2 separate regions of the Homo sapiens genome follow, and region 2 is linked to region 1. Evidence: fine-mapped expression QTL. A gene starts in region 1. The other region holds a variant in brackets. All regions are shown on one strand. Distances are between the middles of the regions.

What was found. PIP is the estimated chance that this variant, and not a neighbour inherited with it, causes the effect. A credible set is the group of variants that fine-mapping cannot tell apart.
Region 2: its variant is the best candidate, but not a certain one, in a credible set for the expression of SFRP1 in prefrontal cortex (BrainSeq, PIP 0.75).

What each region holds. Positions count from the first base shown.
Region 1 is chr8:41,307,838-41,310,740 of GRCh38, forward strand. SFRP1 (secreted frizzled related protein 1) reads right to left here and starts at 1,636. Exons shown (of 3, transcript NM_003012.5): 1 at 779-1,636. The coding sequence starts at 1,322. RefSeq lists enhancers at 1-585, 586-1,356.
Region 2 is chr8:41,466,203-41,469,105 of GRCh38, forward strand. No RefSeq gene overlaps it. Among named protein-coding and RNA genes, the nearest start is that of GOLGA7, 23 kb to the right of the region's middle. The variant AT/A (reference allele first, on the strand shown) is at 1,268.

The DNA.
Region 1 (2,903 bases):
TCTCCCCGGGAGGAGATGAACAATGAGCTAATTACATTTTTATCTTTCTAATGAGCTGAGGATTTGTGTAAATGAGAAAAGCAGGGGGTACGCTAGAGGGAGGGAGAAAAGACTTTCCACCCCCAGCCCTCCGAGGGCAGAGCTGGTACCTGGAAGGGGTGGAGAAACAGAAGTCCCCACGGTTCCTAAACTTTCTCAGCCAGTTTTGCAGCAATCCCAAGGCTACTTGACTGAATGACCAGTGAAGGAAAGGGCTTGGTTTTATTTTTTAAATCTTTGTCGAACCTATGAAAATAAACAAAAGCTGCTCCAAGCATTCTCTCGGCCTTTCTGAACTTTCTACGCTTTGGGTTTTTGTTTTTTCCTCCCGTCTCAGAGGTTAAAAACTTCGATAGGGACTCGGAGTCCTCCTAGAGGAGAGGGAAGCTCCCCTGTTATTTAAAGCGCAAGGCTTTGTTTCAGGTATGGGAAAGGCGAAGTTGGATCCCAGGAAGAGCGGCTCCGGGGACCACAGCGAGTCCCTGCGAGGCCAAGGCGCAGAGCTGCCGCTCCCGGGCCAGCCCCGCCGTGCACCTGGGTCGCGAGGGGCGCTGAGCGATACCTGGGACAGACCAGACGCGCTTAGGAATCACGTGCACAGCATGCGAGCAACCTCGGGCCCTCAGTCCCCAGCACCGGGACCCAGCGGCGGGCGGGCGTAGGGTGGCGCGGGTTCTCCTGCAGCTCCGGCCGGGGGATGGAGGGGGCGGCTCGCGCACGTGGGAGGAGGCAGCCTTACCTTGGGGCTTGGAGGCTTCGGTGGCATTGGGCGGCGTCATGGCGATGCAGACGTCCCCCTCGGGGAACTTGTCACACTTAAGCATCTCGGGCCAGTAGAAGCCGAAGAACTGCATGACCGGCTCGCACGAGTCGCGCACGGCCTCGCAGAGCCAGCGACACGGGTAGATGGGCCGGTCCAGGCAGACGGGCGCGAAGAGCGAGCAGAGGAAGACCTGGGTGCCGGCGTGGCAGTTCTTGTTGAGCAGGGGCACCCAGCTGCTGGCCTGCTGCTTCACCTCCGCCATGGTCTCGTGCTCCAGCAGGTTGGGCAGCACCATCTTCTTGTAGCCCACGTTGTGGCACAGCCGCAGGTCCGCGGGGATGTCCACGCACTGAGGTGGCTTGGTGTAGAAGCGCCCGCTCTGGTACGGGCCGATGTCCGACTGGAAGCTCACGTAGTCGTACTCGCTGGCCGAGCCCACGGCCAGAAGCGCCGCGCCCAGCGCCAGCAGCACGCCCAGGGCTGCCCCGCGGCGGCCCCCCTCGCTGCGCCCGATGCCCATGCCGGCTCTGCGCCCTGTTCTCCGCGACGTCGGGGCTGCCTCCGCCGCCTCCCCGCGCGCGTCCTGCCGCAAACTTCCAGGGACCTCCGGGGACAAAAGGCGCAGTCCCCAGCGTTGCCCGGCTCCGCGGCCGCAAGCTGCTGCCCGGTCCCCCCGGCCAGTGGCGGCCCTCGGCCTGCGGTCGGAGGCGGCGCGGGCGGGGAGGCGGCGCTGCGGGCTGGGTGCGCCCCGGCTCCCGGAGGTGCGGCGAGCAGGAAGGCGCGGGGCGGCGGGCGCGCGGCACTGACTCCGGAGGCTGCAGGGCTGGAGTGCGCGGGGCTCCTACGGCCGAGCCCTCGGAGCCGCCCCGCGCAGCCAATCAGCTCCCGGCGGGGCGAGCCGCACTCGTTACCACGTCCGTCACCGGCGCGGGAGCCAATCGCCTCCCTCGCGAGCGGGTTCGGTTTACTAGAACCAGACGCGGCTCAACACCCCTTAAAAAACAAAACCAAAAATACATAAATAAAAGGGGGAGGAGGAAAGAGACAAGGGGAGAAAAAGAAGGGGAATGGATCACGGCGTGGGGTGGAGAGAGACCAGGGCGGACGCTGTAATTAACTCGCATTGGCTTGCAGAGAAGCGGGGAGCCTGGATCATACTTGCAAACCCATGAAATTATGAAGACTTTTTTTTTTTGAGACAGTTTCGCTCTTGTTGCCTAAGCTGGAGTGCAATGGCGCTATCTCCGCTGACTGCAACCTCCGCCTCCCGGGTTCAAGCGATTCTCCTGCCTCAGCCTCCCGAGTAGCTGGGATTACAGCCGCGTGCCACCATGCCCCCGCTAATTTTTTGTATTTTTAGTAGAGACGGGGTTTCACCATGTTAGCCAGGCTGGTCTCGAACTCCTGACCTCAGGTGATGCTCCTGCCTTGGCCTCCCAAACTTTTTTTTTCTTTTTCTTTACACTGCTTCCTAATTTCAACCAACAGCCCTTTAGACTAGCGGCTCCTCTCCTCGGTTCTCTAGCTGCGGTGCAGACAGGTGGTTTCCCAACTAACAGGGGTTCAGGAAGGCTGAAGCGAGGGAGGTCTGCTTGTAAATACCCAGTGGGCCTGGCTGGGCTCCCTGGAAGGCGAGGCGAAGGCGCAGTTGGAGCTGTTTGCTGTGAGCAGCACCTCTCCAGGTGGGGCCGCCCATGGTGGCCCTCAACACTGGGGCAGTGGGTGGACTTTGCCCGGTGTGGCGGCAGGAAGAGCTGCTAGCAACGGTATTAGCTCTGGGAGGACACTTTTTTAAATATATAATATATATTTAAATAGAAAAACCCTACTCAAGTCCTAGCCCGGGCGACAGCACATCTGTGTGTTTGTGGTGTGGAAAGCCAAAACATTAAAAACACATGTGCACTTATCAGCGTGGCTGGTGTAAATACCAAGTCCATCACTCAGGCACACATGCTAAGGTTAGACCCAGTCCAGGAACTTCAAGTTAAAATCAAGGGTCCCCACTAGGGCAGACGCCAAGAGGACGGTATCAGCACAACAGCTCGGCCCCCAGGAACAGAAGTCTCTCTGCCACCTTCTACCTCGAATTCCTGAGAAT
Region 2 (2,903 bases), 160 kb after region 1:
CTGATCTGCCAACAGCTTGATCTGGGACTTCCCAGCCCCAGAACTGTGAGAAATAACTTTCTGTTTACAAGTCACCAGTTTATAGTATTTTGTTACAGCAGCCCAAATTGACACTTTCATAGTAAGGACTCATAGTAAACATGTGCCGAACAAATTATACAGTCTACTACAAGCTGGATAGCCACAGAACCTGCGAAGTGTCCTTGGTATACACTGGAATTACCTGAAGAAATTGAAAACATACCCTTGCCCAAGCCCCACCCCAAGAAAAATTATTTTTAATTGATCTGGTGAAAGCCTAGACACAGGTACCATCTGAACCTCCCCAGATGATTCTAACAGGCAGCTATAGGTGAGAATCGCCACTGAGCATCCAAGCCCAGTCTCTGAGCAAGTACGCATCCCAGGGTGGTCAAGTGGACTCAGCACAGAAAGCCTTGGTCTTTGTACACACTTCTCCTTCCTGCCCCACCCACCCTGTGTGGAGTGCAAATGCTCAGTGACAAAGTTGACACAGCCCAGACCTCAGGGCCAGGCTGAGGAGGGGTTTGTTTTTCTAGTACCAGCACTTGACAGATTAAAATCTGAAGTTGAACACTGTTTACATCCTTCTCACTGTTTTCCTGGCGTTTTGGTTTGCTGAAAGGGCGCTGTCCCTTTTCAGAGGTCTTGGGAGGCCGTATTAACACTTGTTATACTAAACAGAAGCATTCCAGGGTGCAGGAGAAAGCTCACAGGTCTGGCTGCTGCCTTTCATTTAGTGAAACTGTTTCTAAATAATGTCATTAGATTCATTAGATCCCATTTATGTGCAGCATATGGACTTTCCCAATATATAAACCACCTCCAAACTGAACTGTCTCTCAGCAAAAGCCATTTCCTGTTAAGATGTTGTTTCTACCTCACTCCATCACAGCCTGCAGCCTGGCCACTGCAGGAGAGTGAATAGGATGATGTAAGAGCTCAGGAGGCTGTGCAAGGTCATCCAGGCCCTAAGACTTGGTGTGGGCCTCAGACCAGCTGCCTCAGCATCACCCCGGAGATAGACGGTTAGAAATGCAGAGTCTCAGGTCCCGTCCCGGACCAAATCGGAATCTGCATTTTCACACTGATCCACCTGTACATTTAAAGTTGAGCACTAGTCTCAAACTCAGTGTGCGCTGGAATCACCTGGATAGTTTTTCAAACACTATTAATTCCTAAATCCCACCCCTGAGAGATTCTGGTTTAACTGATATGAGGCATGGCCTGAACAATAAGAATTTCA[AT/A]TTTTTTTTTTTTTTCTGAGAAAGGGTCTCACTTTCTTGCCCAGGCTGGAGTGCAGTGGTGCAATCTCAGCTCACTGCAACCTCTGCCTCCCAGGTTCAAGTGATTCTCCTGCCTCAGCCTCCCAAGCAGCTGGGATTACAGGCACCTGCCACCACACCTGGCTAATTTTTGTATTTTTAGTAGAAACGGGGTTTCACCATGTTGACCAGGCTGGTCTCAAATTCCTGACCTCAAATGACCCACCCGTCTCAGCCTCCCAAAGTGCTGGGATTACAGGCATGAGCCACCGCACCTGGCCAGATTTTCGAATTTTTATGTAAAGCAAAATGTAAGAACCACCTCTTTTTTATTGAACAAACTGAGGCGCAGGGAGGTCAGTGACCCCTCCAAGGTCTCACAGTCAAGATCCGAATTAGATATAAGGGCACAGCAACAAGAGATCGCAGGTCCACAGTATAGACATAAATGCCACACTGTGCGATATTTTGTTTAGACCCTGTAGGGGGTTGAATAGTGTCTCCAAAAAAGGTATGTCTAAGTCCTAACCTGCTGGTACCTGTTACTATCACCTTATTTGGGAATAGGATTATTGCCAATGTAATTAAAGATATCAGGAAGAAATCATCCTGGGTTTAAGGTGAGCCCCACATCTAATGACTGGTATCCTTATGGGAAGAGGAGAGAACACAGAGAAGAAGGCAATGTGAAGATGGAAGCCAAAATTGGAGTGATGTGTCTCTAAGCCACGAATGCCATGGACTCCTGCAACCACCAGAACCCAGGAGAAAAGCAGAGCCCAGTTTCTCCCTCACATCCTCCAGGAGGAACCAAATCTTTGACACCTCGATTTCAGACTTCTAAACTGGAAGGGAAGACGTTTCTATTGTCTTAAGCCACCCAGCTTGTGGTAATCGTTAAACCAGCCCAAGGAAACCAACATAGTCCTCATTAAGCTTGCAAACTCATCTGGTACCACCCTGAACACTCCAAAACATCTGCATTCATCCCGGAACCAAACAGTTCTTTCCAACATGGCAGCCCAGAGAATCCCCCCTGCTTAAGAACATGCAAGGCTAACGAAGCTTGAGCTTCATGGCCCATCATTTGCATATGCTGGGAGCCCTGGCAACTTTGTTTTCATAATTTCACATTCTTTTTCTTAGAGTGCCTACCGCCTCCCCTCAAATTCTTTTATTTTTATTTTTTATTTTATTTTATTTTCAGAGGGGGGTCTCACTCTGTGGCCCAGGCTATAGTACAGTGGAGTGATCATAGCTCATTGCACCCCCAACCTAAATTTTATTTATAAGCTTCAAAAAACATGAAACATGAATCCACCCCTGCCTTTACGGTAAAATGTAAGTTGTTAGCTGGATAGCCAGAGGACTTTGCCCCCAGCCTCACCCTGTCTCTCCAGACCCCACTCCCACACGCTGCCTGCCCAAGCCCTCCCTTCTGCTCAGATGACCCCTTGGGGCTCCCTGCCCATGCTGCCCACGTTCCCCCCTCCACACTGCAGCTCAGGGCAGTCCTGTGCTTCTCTACTTATAGATTTTTCTTCCCATAATACCTAGTTCAAGCCTGGTTCTGCTTGGACGGTATTTCTTGTCCTCCCTAGCCAGTGGAAGTCAGCT